Regions from separate parts of the Homo sapiens genome. Here region 2 is linked to region 1. The links come from fine-mapping of genetic effects on gene expression. Tissue or cell type: Th1/17 cells. Region 1 holds a variant in brackets; the other region holds the start of a gene. All regions are shown on one strand. Distances are between the middles of the regions.

What was found. PIP is the estimated chance that this variant, and not a neighbour inherited with it, causes the effect.
Region 2: ETNK2 starts here. The variant in region 1 is the best candidate, but not a certain one, in a credible set for the expression of ETNK2 in Th1/17 cells (Schmiedel 2018, PIP 0.69).

The regions. Positions count from the first base shown.
Region 1 is chr1:204,172,603-204,183,204 of GRCh38, forward strand. No RefSeq gene overlaps it. Among named protein-coding and RNA genes, the nearest start is that of REN, 12 kb to the left of the region's middle. RefSeq lists a promoter at 1-5,877 and enhancers at 4,752-4,963, 6,214-6,714. The variant T/C (reference allele first, on the strand shown) is at 5,456.
Region 2 is chr1:204,148,507-204,157,577 of GRCh38, forward strand. ETNK2 (ethanolamine kinase 2) reads right to left here and starts at 3,538. Exons shown (of 8, transcript NM_018208.4): 1 at 3,089-3,538; 2 at 1,197-1,456. The coding sequence starts at 3,346. It overlaps REN (renin), which reads right to left. Exons shown (of 10, transcript NM_000537.4): 6 at 8,855-8,863; 7 at 8,171-8,290; 8 at 7,672-7,813; 9 at 7,314-7,412; 10 at 6,313-6,671. The coding sequence ends at 6,510. RefSeq lists an enhancer at 2,617-3,316.

The sequences.
Region 1 (10,602 bases):
CTATCCTCTGTTGACCTAGTAAGGGTGGGAGAGAAGGGCAGTCTTCAGGGTTTTGGCTTCTGCTAAATAGAGGTAGGGCAGCTGATCTTCCAACTTATTCTCCTCTTTCTGCTTGGCTCTAACTCCCTTTTAGGCCCTGGTTCTCTGCCTCATTTCCTTTTCCCTGTAGCTTTACAAGCAGTCAAGTACAGCTCCCCAGACAGACATCTGGTCCCTAAATCCCAGGATGAGTGCTATTTATTCAGGCTAAGATGCCTATCTTGGCTTTTCCCTGATTATTTTTTAGGGCCCACTTCAAATATTACCCCCTCCTCCATGAAGCAGGCCCTGACTCAGCCTGGAATTGACTGCTTTCTGCTGTAGGCTTCCACAGCATGGCTACAAGCCCTTCTATGACAGCACCAACTTAGCTGCTTTTGCAGCAGAGTTCTTTATGTATGTATGAATATGATTTTTGCCCACAGTGGTGCTTAATATTTATTAAGTGGATGAACTAGTGAACTGCAATGGGCAGTGCAAAGAGCCCTGGGTTGGTGGTCAGGGACTTGGATCCTAGTCTTCATTCTACCATAAATTTGCTATGTGATGTTGGATCCCTCCTTTCTCCTCTTTGGACCTCAGTTTCCAAATCTGTACAGTGAAGCAGATGGCTGGATGGCACCAAGGGTGTCTTCATGCTCTGATACCCTAATATTCTAATATTCTGTGCCTCCAGGGTACTGCCCTCTACACCAGCTCCACACCAGCTGTGGGCAGTACAGACAATGAGAGGAGCTCATCTCTGTGGCTAATGTTTTGGCTAATTAATGTGTTTTGACCTCAGAGATGATAAGGCCCTTTCCAAACGATGGACCCTAGTGGTGATTTTTCAGGAACTGTGGTTGGGAGTGGGGGAATTATTTGGGGACAGGGGAATACTTTTAGATCCTTCATGGTAGGGGTATCTTGTCAGAATAAATGAACATTTATGAAGCACCCCTAAATTGCTCTTTCAGTCCTCTTTCATTTACTAGCAAATATTCATGGAGCCTTTATTATAATGTGAGGCACTCTGCTAGATGCTGGAGTTACAAAGTTCACAAAAATAAACACAGTTTCTGCTCTTGTTTATGGATCCCACCGTCTTGTGGAAGAGATAGATTATTATCATCATGCATAAATATAAAATAGCGCTGATGACTAGTGCCAGTCAGGGAACTCCAGGAAGCTTCCCTCCCACCCAAAATTATACTCGCATTGTGATCTGAAGGCTGCATTGGCAATGAATAGCTGAAGACAAAGAAATAGAGTCCCAGCAGGAACAGAACGTGCGAAGGCCCTGTGGAGAGAGGATGATGTCAATAAAAACAAAAAAAGCCAACATATCAAGAACAGAGAGATGAGAGAGAGCGGGGTGAGACATGTGGCCAGAGGCAGGAGCTGAAAGAGCTAACACTTACTGAATACTTACTATGTGCAAGATACCACTCTAGGTGTTTAATGCACTTAATTCTCACAATAACCATATGAGGTTGTAGCATTATATCACTATTTTACAGATGAGGACATTGAGGCCCAAGAGGATTCAAAAGGTAACTTGCCCAAGGTCCCACTGGCAATAAGGGCCAGAGTCAGACAGTAAGTTTAGGCTGTGTGGCCCAGAACCCAGTACATAGATGCGCTGAGTGTCAAACCATAAAGGTTCTTGCATCCCATGTTAGGAAGTTCTGTGTTTACCCTAAGAGCCATGGGAAGCTGTTGACCCATTAAGAAGTGAATGAATGTAATTAGATGTTTTTGCAGACAGGTGAAGAAGGGACTGATGGGCCAGGTGCAGTGGCTCACGCCTGTAATCCCAGCACTTTGGGAGGCCGAGGGGGGCGAATCACCTGACGTCTGGAGTTCAAGACCAGCCTGGCCAACATGGGGAAACCCCGTCTCTACTAAAAATACAAAAATTAGCTGGGCGTGGTGGCAGGCACCTGTAATCCCAGCTACTCTGAAGGCTGAGGCAGGAGAATCCCTTGAACCCGGGAGGTGGAGGTTGCAGTGAGCCAAGACTGCGCCATTGCACTCCAGCCTGGGGAACAAGAGCGAGACTTTGTCTCAAAAAAGAAAAAAAAACAGAAGGGAATGTTGTAATTAGATGTGTTTTGCATGTGTTTCGGCTGCAGTGTGGACTAGCAAGGAGTGGGGATGGGTCCAGAATAGCATGGCATATACCAGTTAGGAGGTCATGGTGCTAGAACTAGCTTGGTCTAGGGTACTTGGGCATGGTGAAGATGAAAAAGATTGGATGGATTTGAGAGAAATTTAGGAAATAGAATCTGCAGGACTTGGTGACAGATCGGATATAGAGAGTGAGGAAGAGATTGGTTTTTGGAGGCACTCTGGGTACATAGAGTGATGGAAGAGAACGAGGATTTCAGAAGGGGAAGAGGGTTGGAGAGACCATAAGTTTGAGGAACTGTTGAGTATGGATCTCCTTTGAGACATCCCAGGGGTGATATCAAATGGCAGGTGCATAAATAAACCCGGGTGAAAGATTTATGTGTTATTTGCAATTGGTGATTAATGCGACAGGTATGAATGAAATTAGCCAGGGAGAAGGTGAGCAGCAAGAAAGCCCTGGACTCTAAGCTTTAAGGACAAGCAGCAGAGGAGGAATCTGCAGAGGAGACCCCAAAGGAGTGGCCACAGAGGAAGGAGGAGAGCAGCAGGTGTCTCTGAAGTTGCAGGGAGAGACTGTTTAAGGAGAGATGGTGAGGGACAGTAGGTGCTGCTGCAGGGTGAGGTGAGACTTGGGTTAAAATGGAGACATGCGGGCCACTGGTGCTGTCAGTGGGAGCTGTTTTGGTGATTCAGAGGGGTGGGAGTCCACACAGGGATGGGTTGATGAATGATGGGAAGTGCTACGATGTGAATGTTTGTGTCCCCCAAAATTCATAGGTTGAAATTCTAACCCTCAATATAATAGTATTAGGAGGATGAACCTTTGGAGAGGTGATTAAGTCCTGATGGGATTAATGCCCTTATAAAGGGGGCCCAAGGGAGCTCTTTTTTCCCCTTCCACCATGTGAGCCACAGCAAGAAGATGCCACTCATGAACCAGGACAAAGGCCCTCGCCAGACACCAAATCTGCCAATGCATTGATCTTGAACTTCTCAGACTTCAGAACTGTGAGAGATAAGTTTCTGTGGTTTATAAGCTACCCAGTTTATGGTATTTTTTAATAGCAGCCTGAACAGACTAGGATAGAAAGTAAGAAGATGAAGACAACATAGTGTAGGCAGCTATTTTGAAAAGTGGAGGAGTAAAAAAGGGGAAAGAGGGTGACGATAACTGGAGGAGAACGAGGACCAGGTGAGAGGTTTTTCTCTTTCTTCCTCCTCCTTCCCTCCTTCCTTCTCCTCCTCCTCTCCCTGACGAAATGCTTAAAAGGTAGCTTGACTCTTTGTTCGGGGCTCAGTCCTTTAGATGTTAATCCGACTGGGTCGGTGCACCTAAATAATTAAATAATTCCTCCTCAACCCCTCGGTCTCTCTGATTCCTTAATTATCCCGCTGCACTGCCAATCTTTTCTAATGATGGGAGGGAGTTGAGTATATTTAATGCATAGAAAGCACTCAGTTGAGAGGAAGAGTTAATTAACGCAGTAGGATTCCTGGGAGGGAAGGAGTATACAGGGTGGGAAACAGCAGGATGGAGCAGACCCTCCACTGCAGCAGGAGGAAAGAAGGCAAGGCATGTGCAGGTGTTAGTGGTTGATTTGCTTGGCATTGGAAGCTGAGGGACTGCCTGTCTGGTGGCTGTTATCTTCTCTGACAAGTAGGAAGCAAGGACCTCTGCTGAGAGTTGGGGATGGGAGGGGGTTTGGAGGCATGAGAAAAATGGAGAAGCTCTGGAATCATTATGGAAAGTGGGAAGAAGGTGGCCAGGGAAACCAAGAGGATTTCTGTGAGGAATGAAGACATTTAATGGCTGGAGATCATGACTTTAAAGGAAGCCAGTTGGCCTGGTTCTCTGTCTCCCCCTACCAATACCACAGTGTCAGCTCCTTGGATACAGATGGAGAGAAAGTATATAGCTGGCTTCATCCAGGGCTAGGGTGATCAAAGATGAGGGACAAAGGAATTTAAGGTTTTAGCAAAAATGTTATTGGACCGGGAGCAGTGGCTCATGCCTACAATCCCAGCACTTTGGAAGGCCGAGACAGGAGGATTGCTTGAGCCTGGGAGGTTGAGACCAGCCTGGGCAACATAGTGAGACCTCGTCTCTACAAAAAAGTACAAAAATCAACTGGGGTATGGTGGTGCCCACCTGTAGTCCCAGCTACTTGGGAGGCTGAGGTGGAGGATTGCTTGAGCCCAAGAGGTTGAAGCTGCAGTGAGCTGTGATTGTTGCCACTGTGCTGCAGCCTGGGTGATGGAGTGAGACCTTGTCTCAAAACAACAACAACAACAACAACAACGACAAAAACTGTTATTGAATGAAAAACTGTGGAATGTAAGGTGGCTAGAGAAGTCAAGACAGGACAGAATGGATGATCTGGAAGGAAGCAAAGGACCATGGCAATTGAGAAGAGTGAGCAGGGCTGGTGGGAACAGTTGAACCACAAAGCTGGAGGACGAGCTGGCTGAGCATGGGATGCTTGAGATAGTCTGGAGGGGAAGTGGTTATAAGTGATAAGTCCCAAGTAGGACGTGGCTGTGGATAGCTGAAGTAGAGGAGGGGTGAGGTTGTTGGAAATGGGGCCCCAAGGATCTGAGAGGCCAGTATGGCCAGGTCACCATCTGCGTGGTTGGTGATGTCATCAGGAGGTTGCAGAGGGCAAGGGGTGGAGGAAGTCTGTAAATCAGGAGCCAAAGTCTTTGATAAATGACAGGGCGGGAACTGCTAGTCCAGTAATGACAGCAGGGAGTGTGTGGAGGGTCCAAGGCAAAAAAGCAGGGCCTGAAGGGAAGAGGGTCTTCTCCCAGTGTCCACATCAGCCTGGGAGGTGAGTGGATCAGTTTCCCCAACAGGAGGAAGCCAAGACCTAGGAGGTTAAGCAGTGTGTCATGATTTGCAGATGGTAAGTGGCAGAGTGGGGACTTGCATCTCTCCTGCACCATATCCTGTGTTGCTCATGGGTACAGTTGCTGGGCTTGAACCTGGGTGGGTGCCCTGCCCCAGAATCTCACTTCTCTCCACCTCGAGCTCGAGGGCCCCTGCGTTGCTGGAGGAGTGTCCATCATGAATCTCAGGAGAGTGCTTAAGAGTGATGCTGTCTCCTTTCCCACCATGACTGCAACCTGTCATAGCCAGCAAGGGTGACTGACCACCCACCCTTTCTCTCCCTCTGCTCTCAGCAAACCCTAGAGGAAAGGGAGCAAGGAGCAGGGAGAGAACAAGTTGGAGGACTGTCAGAGATGGGGTCAGCCTAGGGGCTGCAGCAGAATGTGAGTAACACCAGCCAACTTTCTTGAGCATCTA[T/C]GATGTGCTATGAGGTGATTTGAACACTACTGGATTTTGTTTTCTAGGCAGCCCTATGAAGTGGTAACTATCATCTGCACTGTTCAGATGAGGCCACTGAGGCTGCAGAGAGCTTAGAGAAGGACAAGCTGAGGGCTTCACTTTGTGACTCCTTCTCTGTGGCTATGGGTGTCAGGAACAACTGGGAGAGCCAATGGGATTCAAAAGAAGAATCTGTAGAGAGTGATCCAACCCCATAGAGCTTTTCTATGTGGAAAGGGGAGCTCTTCTAAGCCCCACGTCTAGTATAGTTTAGACACCCAGTACAGTGCAGCAGAACCCTCACATCTATTTTTGATTAAGTTTCCGGACTCTTCAACAGCAAAGGCAGAGCCAGGAGGTCCAGAGCAGGCAATGTGAAGCCCTGAGCTACCAGTAGATCTAGGTCCCCTGGGGACCCAGCACTCTCCAACCAAACATGTCCTCACTCCCACATCTATCCCCTGCCTCCCACCATGTATGCAGCACCATGACCCCCATGTGGTCCTGAGCCCAGCAGTGCATACAAGTGAGACTATGAAGCATGAATAACCTCACCAGGAGAGAGAAGTGGAACAATGACTCTGCTAACTCACTCTGAGGCTGCAAGCAAGTTGCAGACAAGATCTGCAGAGACCACAGGGCAGGCAAGGAAATCAACTTCTAAGAGGGTAACAGAGTCCAAAATGACAGCCTCTGTCTTATTTCTCCTGGTTTCCACCCCAGCGCACAGCCTGGGAGGGGAACAGTTGGAGGAGAGATCCCGAGATCAGAAAATGGGCAACACAGCTAAGCACGACCATGCATGGTCTGGAGCTGGGACAGGCAAGGGGCCTGAAACCATGTCCTGAAGGTTGGCCAAAGGCCCTGGAGAAGCTTAGCTGGAAGAGAGAAGCCACACATGCGGCCCTGGAAGGAATCAGAACCAGCCCTATTTTCTGTGCCCACAATGCAGATCTGAGGCTCATGAGAAGTGGCGGGATGGGGAGAATCTGTTTGAGTTCCATTCTAAGGAGGAACTGTCCAGCGGTTCACACTGCCCAGCAGGGCAAGTGCCCTCTGAGGCGGTGAACTCCCCTACCTGGGGATAGTCCTGCCCAGGTGCTCAACTGTCAGGGAGCTCCCTGCCATGGACAGGGCCAGGCTGACTCTGTGCCTGTCCAGCTCTGGTGTGTCCTGACTGCCAGGTGGCCTGACCTGTAACTCTCCCATTTCTGCTGCACAGGTGGGGGAAAATACAGAAGGGGAGGTGAAGCTGCCAGGAGAGCCTCTCCTCCCCTCTGAACTTGGGCCTTCCCGAGTCCCAGGCTGGGGATGGAAAAGAGAGAGTATGAGGACCCTTATCAGGTCATCTTTTGACCCCCTTCTGCCCGGGGTCCAGTTCTTCTCACAAAGGCTCGCCAGGATGCTACGCAAAAGCCCTGGGCTGCGTCACCTCTCGCTCAGGGAAGTGGAGTGGGTGGGGGCAGAGGGAAGGGTCATATTGCCCCAGCCCTTTCCCAGCGGGGCAGGGCTGGGACGTGAGAACCAGGCAGGGGAAGCATAAATCCAGTCAGATCCCAGCCCTCTCATCTTACTTCAGATCCCACAACCTCTGGAAATCTCTCAGGACATAAGTGGTGCTCAGGGTTTTTTCTTAAAAACCCCAAATCCCACTCTCCTCCATGATAATGAGCCCAGGGAGATTCAGGTGTTGAGACCAAGGCTGGAGTGGTCAGGGGAGGTCGAGGGTGGAGGGAGGGAAGTCTGGGTAGCATGAAGAGTCTGGTTTGTGCTGCTGCGAAACAGGCATGGATTTATTCTTGGTATCAGCAGTTTAGTAGAAAACTCTTATCATGGCCCCTGCCCAGGGGGTGGTGGTAAAGAGGTAGAACTTGGACTCACTGAGGCTTAGTGCTTGGGAGCTAATCATCTCTTGGCCAGTCCTGCTTCAATTCATTAAAAAGCAAATGGGGCTGGGCATGGTGGCTCATGCCTGTAATCCCAGCTACTCAGGAAGCCAAGGTGGGAGAATTGCATGAAGCCAGGAATTCAAGGCCAGCTTTGGTGACATAGAGAGCCCCTGTGTCTAAAACTATTTTTAAAAAATTATCCAGGCATGGGGGCACACACTTGTAGTCCCAGCTAATTAGGAGGCTGAGGAGGAAGGATAGCTTGAGCCCAAGAGTTCGAGGCTGCAGTGAGCTGTGGCTGGGCCTCTGCGCTCCAGCTGTGTGACACAGCAAGACCTTGTCTCAAAACAAACAAAAGCAAATGAGCAAGCAAGCGGTGAGATCAAATGGCCACGTCTCTCTTCCACCTGTCCTCCTTCCCTCATCATGCTTCACTCCCCATCGCTGGAGAACTCCAGCTGGCTCTGGAGGAATTTACCAATCAGATGGGGCGCTGAACTCTACTAGTAGAGATGAGCAGCTGTGGCCTTGAGAGGAAAGAAAGACCCAGAATGGAGTTTTGTAACCGTCCAGTGCTGCCTTGTGTGGGCAGACTCTCCAGAAGGGATAATTACTCAGAGAGCTCTGGGCAAGGGATGGGCAGGAACGGAAGAACCTTGGGATGGAGGTGGGGTAGGGGTAGGAGTGAGGAGAACCAAGCATCCTTAGTTGTTTGTTCTGGGAACCTTAGAGGAACAGGTATTCAGCCATGGGGTTGGGTGATCCCAACCTGAGGCCTGTTTAACTGGTGACCCAGGAAAATTGAAGGCAGGTTACACAGGTCTTGGGATCTGTAGGGGCCTGGGGCAGGAGGGGATTGGCATGGGGGATGGGGGCTTGGTGGGATAGCCTGATTGAAGGGTGTTCCTAAAATGAGATGCACCCAATGTGGTGGAACCAGACATCAATACCCTGAGGCATGAAAGCTAGAAACATAGAAAAATGCTTTTCCTTAGTGGCACCAGGAGTCTGTTTTGTTATCGAACAAGGTTAAGCTGGAAGGCTCCTTTTCTAGAGGAGGATTTGACAGCACAGCAGTGGAGTGTGTGTGTGCGTGTGTGTGTGTGTGTGGTGTGTAGGGAGTGACAGAGGGGTGGTATAGTGCTAGGGGTTCGTGTGCTGAGTGTCACCAGCAGAAGCATAGCTGGGATGGAGGATGGCTGTTAGGGACAGGGGTTGTACTATTAAAGCAAAATTATCCAGTGCCACTTATTAAAGCACAGTAAGGCAGACTTTACTCAGGACTTTTGAGATAGATACAGGGACCACTGCAACAGGTTCTTGCAGTTGGGGAGAGAAGTTGGGCTCAACTCCAAATACAGCATGGGCAAGTGAAAATGTAAAGCCAAGGAGCATGGTGGGGTCAGTGGATGAAAATTACTAAGAGGAAACATCAGGGGCATGGGGGCATTCTGGCTAAACTCATGTAACAGGATTCCTGCCACAGACAGGCCATGGTGATCAGACATCACCTGTGGCATGGTGCAGGCTGAGGAACCTGGTCAGATATCCAGGGTGATCAGATATTGAGGGTGGGGATTATTTGCTAAATTGACTTAGCAGGGCTCTTTGCTAAAACTGGATTTTACAAGGAAGTGCCCAGATAAACCTAGCAGAAGATTTGAAAGGCATAACTAAAATTTGGACAAGCAAAAATTCTTTGTCAGCACCTCAAGAATACATTTCCCAGAAAACAGACCTCTCTCTTCCTCCCTCCCTGCCTGCCCACCCGCGTCTCCCATCCTTCCTTCCCCCCTTTCTCCTCCTCCCTTCCTCTTTTCTCTTCTCCTTCTTCGTCTTCTTTTTCTTCTTCTTCTTCTTTTTTTTTTTTGAGACAGTCTCGCTCTGTCACCAGGCTGAAGTGCAGTGGTGTGATTTCAGCTCGCTGTAACCTCCACCTCCCGGGTTCAAATGATTCTCCTGCCTCAGCCTCTGGAGTAGCTGGAATTACAGGCACAAGCCACCATGCCCAGCTAATTTTTATTTATTTATTTATTTATTTATTTATTTATTTATTTATTTATTTTTTTTTTTTGAGACGGAGTCTCGCTCTGTCGCCCAGGCTGGAGTGCAGTGGTGCGATCTCGGCTCACTGCAAGCTCCGCCTCCCGGGTTCACGCCATTCTCCTGCCTCAGCCTCCCAAGTAGCTGGGACTACAGGCGCCCGCCACTACGCCCGGCTAATTTTTTGTATTTTTAGTAGAGACGGGGTTTCACCGTTTTAGCCGGGATGGTCTCGATCTCCTGACCTCGTGATCCGCCCGCCTCGGCCTCCCAAAGTGCTGGGATTACAGGCGTGAGCCACCGCGCCCGGCCTAATTTTTATATTTTTTAGTAGAAGCAGAGTTTCACCATGTTGGCCAGGCTGGACTTAATATTTTTTTAATCAGAAAAAAATATGCTGTAGCTTTAAAAATGAATACAACTAAAAGGCTTATAATGAAAACCAGCAATCTCCAATTCCACCCCCACCCCCAGCTCTCAGCCTGGCTCCTCCAAGGTAAGACTGTTAACTCTCTAGACTATTCTGCTATTGTTGGTCATTCATATTCCTAAAGGTGACGCATATACTTTTATTTATTATTATTATTTTTTGAGATGGAGTCTCGCTCTGTCGGAGTGCAGTGGCATGATCTCGGCTCACTGCAACCTCCACCTCCCGGGTTCAAGAGATTCTCCCTGCCTCAGCCTCCAGAGTAGCTGGGATTACAGGCACCCACTACCACACCTGGCTAATTTTCGTATTTTTAGTAGAGACAGGGTTTCACCATGTTGGCCAGGCTGGCCTTGAACTCCTGACCTCAGATGATACACCCACCTCAGCCTCCCAAAGTTCTGGGAATTACAGGCGTGAGCCATCGCGCCTGGCCAAAATTTTACACATTTTTATTACTCTTCTTTTGTGATAGATGAGAATTTCTCTCATATTCCACCCCTTGGTTTTTGACAAAATCAAAACTCAGGTCTTTCCTGCCTTCGGGCCTGGGTGTGCAGGAGGCATAGAGGTCACCACAAGCCCCAGGCCAGCTCAAGCTCTGTGTTGTCCACCCAGGACTGCTACAGAGGGAGCCTTGGTGCCTAAGGAGTGGCTGACGGTAGGGAACAACAGCCAAGGAGGTATATCAGACAGGTTGCTCATCAACTCCCAGCTTGATTCTAGAAAGAACTCCACTCTCCAACCAGTCCAGACACAGAGGA
Region 2 (9,071 bases), 25 kb before region 1:
AACTGTTCAACTGGAGCCTGCAAACATCCCTGCATAGGTCTGTATGCCTCTCACACCCTCAAGACACACACACACACACACACACACACACACACACACACACACTGCTACAATACACAACTCAAATATCCCGCCTGACCAGCCGCTTATGAGCATGGGGGTGGAAGAGCTCTCAAATCCTCTTCTTCTAAGTCCCTGCAGAAGGCATGCACAAACACAGCCAGGTGCATTTGGGGTTAAGTGGGTGGCAGGTGAGGAAGCAAAGAAGCTTCTTGCTCTACCCCCAGGTGGGCTTGTTTCCCCTCAGTATGCAAGCCCTCCTTCCCCTTGGATTAGCCTGGGCAGATGCCAAGGCTCCTAGGCAGATCCCCGTGCCACTGTCCCAGTGTCAGGAGTAAACCTCAGCCTGCCTTGGGCCTCACTCAAGTCTGAGTGCCCTCCGTGTGGGTCATGACATTGGAGGGAGGAAGGAGGACACTGCTTGCCATCCTTGTTCTGGCACAGAGGAGAGGGAGATGCTAGGGGTCCTTCTTTGGTCCTCCCCCTTTCCAGGCTCCACAGCATTCCCAGGGCTTGAAGGAAAAGTCCAGTTCCTGGGCCCTACACATCCAAGCATTTACTGGGAGGGGCTCCCCAGGAGCCACAGGTTCTTGTGAGCCTTTGAAAGGAGGCCTTGACAGTTCCCCAAACCTGGGTTCCCACTTCGTCAAGGAGCCAGGAAGGAGTTCAGACTGGCAGAAGAGATAGCATCTCCCTGGGCTGGTAAAACCATGCTTACCCTGGATAGGGCCCATTTTCCTTGACAAACAGAGACAGAGGTAGAAAACCCTGAGTGCCCTGGGGATCTGGCTCAGATTTCATTTCTAAGGCTCTGAGATGTTTCCAGGTCAGACTTGGAGTGGGCAGAGGTTTGAGGCATGATGCCAGGAAGCAGATCTCTGCCGCACTTAGGGAACCAGGTCCTCTGCTCCCATGTTCATCACAATTCTTCCTTTCCTCCCCCAGAACTCACCCTTAAAATCTACAGAAAGCGATAGCCCCTCTCTGCAGAGCAATGCATATAAACATGCATTTTTCATGCAATTTCAGGGAACTCACAGATCTTACAACTCTCCACCATGGACCCCACATGCCAAGGATTTCCAAGCCCAAGGCCTGAAGAATAGTAGAGACAGAGGCCCTGGCACCCTCCTCACCTGAAAAGCCGGGGCTCACGGATGTGCTCAGGCTCCAGGGCCACACCCTGCATGTACTCATAGCACAGCCCATTCTGGAAGGTGCAGTAGAGTTTGGGGGCACAGCTGTGTGCTCGCAGCAGCTGGAAGTTTCTGACCTCATTCTCCCGGTCCACCAGCAGCTCCGTCCGCTCCCCATACACCCGGACCAGCACGCAGTCCTGCATGTCCTCCTCCACATAGCAGGCCACCAGCTTGTTGGTGATGCCATCCGTGAAGCGCTAGCATGGGGAGAGGACAGTGCGTGGGTGGGTGGGTGGGGCAGGATCTCTCTGGTCTCTCTCCTGGGCTCTGTAGCTCCAGCAGGAGGTGCTCATTTGAATGCCGAGCACAACCACCCCAAGCCCCCAGTGCTTTAGCCCAGTCACTCATGCTCCTCTCTGTCCCCAACCTTGGGAGTCTCCAGTCTCTATAGAGTTCAAGAAAAAAATGGTAGCTTGGGTTTAGCTCCCACACACTCCTGGGTGTGCCTCTAGTGAATGGGATTTGGCAGTGGAGAAATTTCCACACTACTTGGGAGGTAGACGCCTCCTGCTGCTCCTTACCCTCCACCCCAGTACGGAAAGAAACATCATGGACCAGAATGTGGCAGGGGAGGGCTGGGAGTTGCCCAGAACACTATGTCCTGACCAGCTGCCAATCACCTTGTGCCGGGCAGTGTGCTCTGCTCTACCCCTTGCCCCATCCAGTGGTGGAGGTACAAGGAGGGTACTGAGGTTGGCACCCATCCCAGGACTTTAGTGGCCAGAGGTCCTTACCAGAAAAGACAGGAGACAACTGGGCTGCGAGCAAGGTTCTCTGGACAGCAGGGTGATGAGGAGAAAGGAACCATGGAATTTACGGGGCACAATGTGACAGAGCTGGGAGGGCCCTAGAGGTCATCTGAACCAATTCTACGTAGGGAAACTGAGGCAGGAGAGGGGAGGGACTGGCAGATAGCACGTTAGATCAGTGCTGGAATTAACCTCAGGCCTGCTTGATGCCTTGACAGTCTTATACCAAACTGGGCCTTTTATTTTGAAAACGCTACTCCATCCCCAGGGCGGGTTCTGTCAGCCTCCACACTTGGTTAAGAACCTCCCCACAACTTTGCCCCCACCCCACCCCAGAATGCCTGTCTGCATGGAGCCGCTACCATTCCAGCACAAGCTACAAGCGCCCCACTCGGCACCTTCCTCCACAGGCAGCCCACAGCGGGGCTGGAGGTAGTCAGCTGGGGAGTTAGCCTAAGGCTCAGTGAGTGGCTCTGCCCACAGGTGTGTCCTGGGACCTGTGTCCAGCTGGGGCTGGGGAAGATGGCCTGTGTGGGGGTGCTGAGCCCGAGCCTGCAGCGATGGTGAGGAGCTGAGTGCTAGCTGGAATTCCACAGGGTGGCTCCTGGGACCCACAGGGGCAGCTCAGAGCCTGGAGGATTTGCTCCCACCATGGGGTGGAGAAGGGGCAGCAATGTATGCATGTATGGCTGGGTCGGGGGGGCGGGGGGTCTCTTAAAAGTTCCCGCCTCCTCAGGTTTCAGAGCTGGCTGGGTACGCGCTTCTGGTCAGCGAGGGGCACCAGCACGCAGCGACAGGGGGTGCGGCCCGCACACGCAGCATGCCGACAGTGGGCAGGTGGCCACCAGGCGTGCCTAAGAGCCCCGGGAGGAGGGGGGCGTGTGCAGGGCCAAGGGAGGTGTGAGCCTAGTTTTGGTAGCGACGAAATCAATCCGTACACAAACCACGTTCCAAACCTTTCTTGCGCAGCAGCCGCGCACCCCTGGGACTGACACCCGGAAGGATGCGAGGACTGGGTCCCCGCATCCCCCTGGCAGCCCTGGCAGGACCCCATCCTCGGCCCCGCGCCCACTCCGCTACCTTGGTCCGAACTTGCTCGGGTTTCCAATGCGGCCGCAGCTCCTGGATGAGGCGCAGGGCCCCGGGAAGGATGTCGTCCGGGTCCACGGAAATGCCGAAGTACGCGACGGCGGCGGCCCTCGGGGGGCCCGGCGGCTCCCGGCAGCTGGCGCTGGCCGCCGCCTTCTCCTCCATGCCCCATGAGCACTGCGGGCAAGGCGTGTGCCTCCTCAGGTGAAAGGACGCGCGCGGCTGAGGGGCCGAAGGGGGCACAGCCATTCCCAGCAGCCCCACCCCCTCGGAGCCGCGGCAGACGCTAGCCCCGGCGGGGGGGTCCGGCGAGGGAGTGGGAGTGGTAGAGGAGGGGCCAGGGGAAGTCCATGACTCAGGCGCGAGCTGCCCGCTTCGATCGCCGGCTCGCGGCCCGCCGCCCACCGCCGACCCCGGAGCGCCGCGGCCCGCCGCGATTGTGACATCACGGGCGGTGGCCCGCGGGAACGCCCCCGGCCCGCCCCCGCCCCGGCCCGCGGGCCGCTGGGGAGCTCAGCCAGCCACCGCCGGCAGCTGAGGCCGCCGCTACCTGGAGCGCGGGGTGGGGGCGACGCCCCCCTGGGGGCCGGTGACGCCGGGGGTGGGGCCTCCGCTGGCTCCGCCCCGCCCGGGTCCCCGCCGGGGCTGGCTTCCCGGCCTCCGAGGCCGCGAGACTCCAGCTCTCTCCCGGTAGCCTGGGGTGGAGGCGGGGGAGGGCTCGTCCTGCGCCCCCACCTCATCCTGGAATAGAGAGATCCGCTGCTCCCACGACGTCAGCTTGGGCTCGCCCCTCTGTGCCCCTGCTCCGTGCCCCCAGTCCCCGGACCCCGGGAAATGGCTCTGCAGGGGCGGCCCCTGCTGCATCTCAAAGGTCCTTCCCTGCAGAGAGCCCCCCCCCACACCCAGGCAACCTCCCATCCCCGACAGAAACACACTGCATGAAGAGGGGACATTGGGTGATAGCGTTGGGGTGAGAGTGTGCCAGTCCAGCAGACTGCGCTGTCCCCTGGCAGGCCACTGAACAGCCAGGGCGTTGGAGTGTTTGGGCACATCCTGGGCAGGACTTGGGGCCAGACTGAGTTAAAGCCTCCCTCCCATCCTGAGCGTGTGAATGGAGCCAGGTAGCAGGCCAGCGGTGTACCCGAGCCCAGTGCTTTGCTTGGCATTCGGGGTGTGAAGTGGACAGACCCTCGCGCGTCCTGGGGAGGACAGCCAAATGCCTGGCGCAGCTAAGGGCCAAAGCAAGGCATGGTGATGGCTGGGGGTGGGAAGGAAGGGGAAGGGGTGACAAGGTGTCCCGGGGCAGGTTGCTGTGGGGAGGAGACATGGAGAGAGGCCAGGCCGGCTCAGGGGGCAAGTCCCTCTACTAGCCAGATTCTCCTTTGGTCATTCTCTGCCACCTTCTGAGCAGGGCTCTGTTGGCTGCCAGCCCTATTTGTTGTAGTGAGGCCTCAGGGATCTCACTAGTCACTATCTCTCACTGCCCCACCCAGAAAAGCGCCTTCAGAGAAGGGGCCCTTTCCTATTTTCCCAGTTACCCCTTTGGCCTATCCCGGAACCTCTCAACCGCAAGGCTCCTATGCTTACTGCGGTCCAGAATCCAGCTCTGCCTAGCAGAACTTCTGCAGTGATTGAAATGTTCTATATCTACTGTCCAATGCAGTGACCACTAGCCACGTTGATTTTATTAAAAAAATTTTTTTATTTGAGACAGAATTTCGCTCATGTTGCCCAGGCTGCTGGAGTGCAATGGTGTGATCTCTGCTCACCACAACCTCGGCCTCCTGGGTTCAAGCGATTCTCCTGCTTCAGCCTCCTGAGTAGCTGGGATTACAGGCATGTGCCACCACGCCCAGCTAATTTTGTATTTTTAGTAGAGACGGGGGTTCCTCCATGTTGGTCAGGCTGGTCTTGAACTCCTGACCTCAGGTGATCCACCCTCCTCGGCCTCTCAAAGTGCTGGGATTACAGGCGTGAGCCACCGCGCCCGGTTGATTTTATTCAATTTTAATTAATTTTAATTTTAGTGTAAATAGCCACATGTGCCTACCATATTGGATAGTGAAGGAGATAATGGGGGTCGTGCCTGCCTTCCTAAGGTCCTGGAGCTCCAGGATGGAGCTGGAAAAGACACTGGCCACCAACACTTCCTTTGCAGTGAGGAAGTACAGCTATGCAGGACAAGGGAACATGGAGAATCAGTGGGAGTCCAGGGTCCTGAAGCCCAGGCTCCGGCTCTTGGCGCTACACAGGGACTCTTGCAGATGGCTCCCAGAGGTACTGAGGGCCTGGTTGGGCCATTCAGTGCCTCACGACTTTCTGTCAAAAGAGAGGTGAGCAACTATGGTGAAGAGGGATGGCTTCAGTGGCTCCAGGTGGATGCTAATTTCTCATTCCCCAAGTTACATGTGCCCTGAAGACAGCCCAAGGAGTGAGAGTGGGAGAAGAGACTTCAGCCTGACGAGTCCCAGGTGGATGGGATGGAGGATAGCAGTGTGTGTGTGCACCTGTGTGCTTGTGCACGTGGCCCTGTACCAGCGTGCGTGAAGCACTGTACTTATGACGGTACCAACTGCTTATGATAAGGTGGAAACCCCCAGGACCCAAGTCAGACGGGCTGGGTTCCAGTCTTGATTCTTCACTATCTTTCAGTATTCTTCACTACTTGATTCTTGACCGAGTAATCTTGGGCAAGGCCTTCCATTCTCTGGGCCTCAGTTTCCCCACCTGTAAAGTGGAAGTATTGCCTGGATCTCTGGTGTTCTATGATTTTAGGTGGTAGTGCCTTAGAATGCCTGTGTAAATGGCTACATGGGGCAGGGCGGGGGCATCTGCAGTGGATAAGGACAGCTGAGGGGAGTTTTGCAGGGACAAGAGACAGGGCTGACTAGCTCAGCAGAGCAGAGTCTGAACTCAGAGCTGGCTTCTGTGAGCTGGGAGAACTTTCTGACCCACAGTCTACTGCCACAGCATTAGCCTTGGTCCCTGAGGGACTAGAGGGAGCTTGGTTCCGGCTCTTTTCAGACTTCCCACCTGAGGTTGTGTAAACAGCTCCACCTGAGTCCCGTTGATGGCAGATGGATGGCATCATCCCTGCACGCAAGAACCTGTGCGCTAGGCGAATGTGTAGCTTGTCTGTGTCACATTCCTGTCCACACATGATCACGCAGCCCCTCCCTCTGTTCTAAACCCTAGTGAACCCAGATGCAACAGGCTGTGAACATGAAGTCTTTATTCTCTTTGTCCTCAAAGCAGGGAAGGGCTGGTGCAGGGGTCAGGGCACGCATCCAGCAGGAGCTCCACATCCAATGTCTCCATCTGAGGGCATAAGCCCAGGCAGAGGGGCATCTCAGAGAGTGTTCCAGCTCTGGGCCAGGGCTGAAGGCAGGGCCTGCCTGGGTGGCAGAGGGCCTCAGCGGGCCAAGGCGAAGCCAATGCGGTTGTTACGCCGATCAAACTCTGTGTAGAACTTTCGGATGAAGGTGGCCCCCAGGGCCCAGGTGGGTCCAGTGGGTGGCGGGATATCCATGGCGTGGATGGCCAGTGTGCACAGCTTTTTACTACTGTAGGATTCCTGGCAGGAAGGGGGAGAGTTTCTCCATACCCAGCACATGAGCATTCTCCTTTCACCTTGCCTGACCCCCAGCAACTGTCTTCAGCAACATTCCCCCTCTCGCCCCCATCTCTCCCCTAGCCACACTGGGCCTCCCTCACATCATGGCCATTTTGCCCCATCGTGGACTGCACCACTCCTATGTTTAGCCCCTGTGCTAGATCCCAGGCAAACAATGCATCAGGCACCGTGCTTCCTTCAGGAGCTTACAGTTTGCCTTAGCTTCTGATCCTAGACAAGTTATTCAACTTCTCTAAGCCTATTGATTATGAAAAGAGGGTAAGAATATAGGAGCATAGGATTCTTGGGAGTATTTGATGAGAAAATGGAGATGAGGGAACAGGCATAGTGATGCCCAAACATGGCCACACATTGGAATCACCTGGGGAAACTGAACCCCAGGTGCCACTTCTAGAGGTTCTGATTTAATAGGTATGGGATGTGGCCCAGGTACCAGGATTTTTCAAAGCTCTCCAGGTGACATGCACAGCCAAGTTTGAGAACTACAGTTCTAACATGACCTGTGCATTGTAATCTGTCACTCTTTGAGGGTCTCTGTCCAGCCTTTCTCCCTGCCACCGAGGGGGCCGACTCGAACCTCACCTGAAATACATAGTCCGCGCTGGTGAGCGTGTATTCTTTGCCTCCCAGGTGGAAAGAGATGTCGGGGAGTGTAGGGCCCTCGTTACACTTCACGACATACTGGGGTGGGGGGCAAAGAGAGCCTTCTTGAGTATGGAAGACGTCTCAGCAGACAAGGAGTCCTGCGCTGGTGGCCTGGTCTCTCTGCTGGAGAGGGCTGGGGACAGTGCCCCGCCCCATGGGTGACCAGCCACATGTGTGGAGAGTGTGAGGTGAACAAGCGAAGGCCTGAGATGGCCTCATTTGCCTGGGGGATTTGTGAGCCGATACCAGGTGGCGCTCCCCCCACCCACAGCACCTTCCCTCTTTGGCTTCTTACATCAAACAGCCTCTTCTTGGCTCCCAAGGCCTCCATGAGCTTCTCTATGGAGCTGGTAGAACCTGAGATGTAGGATGCACCGGTGTCTACCAATGCCAGGCAGCCGTCTTCACAGAGCAAGGTGGATGACCCCACAGACACCCTGGGGGAGGCCACAGTCAGACAGACAGACAGACAGACAGACAGAAGGCTGATGGGGCACCTCCAGGCTGCATGTCCTTCCTGAGTGTGGGTGGGTGGGTGGAGGCCACGCTGGTGGCCTGTTGAGGCAGTGAGTAGAGGAGGGAAGGTACTGTCACCCTCCACCACTTCTCCCCAGGCCCCTCCCTTCTCTGTTCCCCAGCCTGGACAGAGCAGGCAGAGAGCAAATGGTGGCTGTGCTTAAGAAGTGGCTGCATTTGGAAAGAGGGCAGGATGGTAATGCAGTCCTTCCCCACCCTCCCCAACCCCAGTGACGGCAGCATTTTTTGGAGCCCGGGGAGGGTTGAGGATTTCTGACCCCTTCATTTGAATCTGCCAGACACCAGTCTTGATGAGGTTGATATAGTGGAAATTCCCTTCGTAATGCTGGGGGTCGCTGCCTCCCAGCACAATCTGTCCTCCCAGCGATTGGGAATTCCTAAAGGAAAGATCAGAAGCTCTTGGAAACCCATAACCTCCAGGACCCAGCAACTCAGGCAATTGGGGAAGGTTGCACAAGGGTGCAGGGGAGGACAGAGGGCTCTAGAGCAGAGGAATGTGGGACAGACAGCCAGGCTCGGAGCTGTCGTTGGGAAGCATGCAGAACATACTGCTTCTCTGCCTTTCTTCCCCTCCCCAAGACCAACCAGAGGTTGTTCCAGGGTAGTCCAGCTGTTCCCCCAAAAAGCATCCCCAGAGAGGTCACAGAAAAGGAGCAGGTACAAGGACAGTGAGTGGATGTGAACAAGACACAAATGGACACCCCTCACTCTTGGGTTGCTGCTGATTGAGCAGGTGCATGGGAGGGGACCCTGGGGAGGCTATTGGGTATGGGGTGGGCAGGTGGCATGGAGAGAGCAGGAAGGAGAGACAGAGAACTTCGGCATCTAGCGGAGGCTGGGCTTGCTGATGTGAGTTTTGGGCCGGTGGCGTGTGTAATTCTAGGTCAGGTGCTCGGGGAGTACTGGAAGGTCACAGCCATGTGGGGGTTTTGTCTCCTTACTCGGAATCTCTGCAGAGAAAGAGAGACAGCAGAAAGGAAGCTTCATTTCATGCCAGCCTCATCAGCCCTGCTGTTTGGCAGGGTGGGTGTTATGTACTCTCTTTGCCCTTCAGGCAATGGAGTCACCAAGAGGCGAAGTCACTTGCCTGAAGTTACCCAGTCCATGAGTGAACAAGTGGGGGACTGGAGCCAGGCTCCTGGTGCCCCGTCTGGAGCT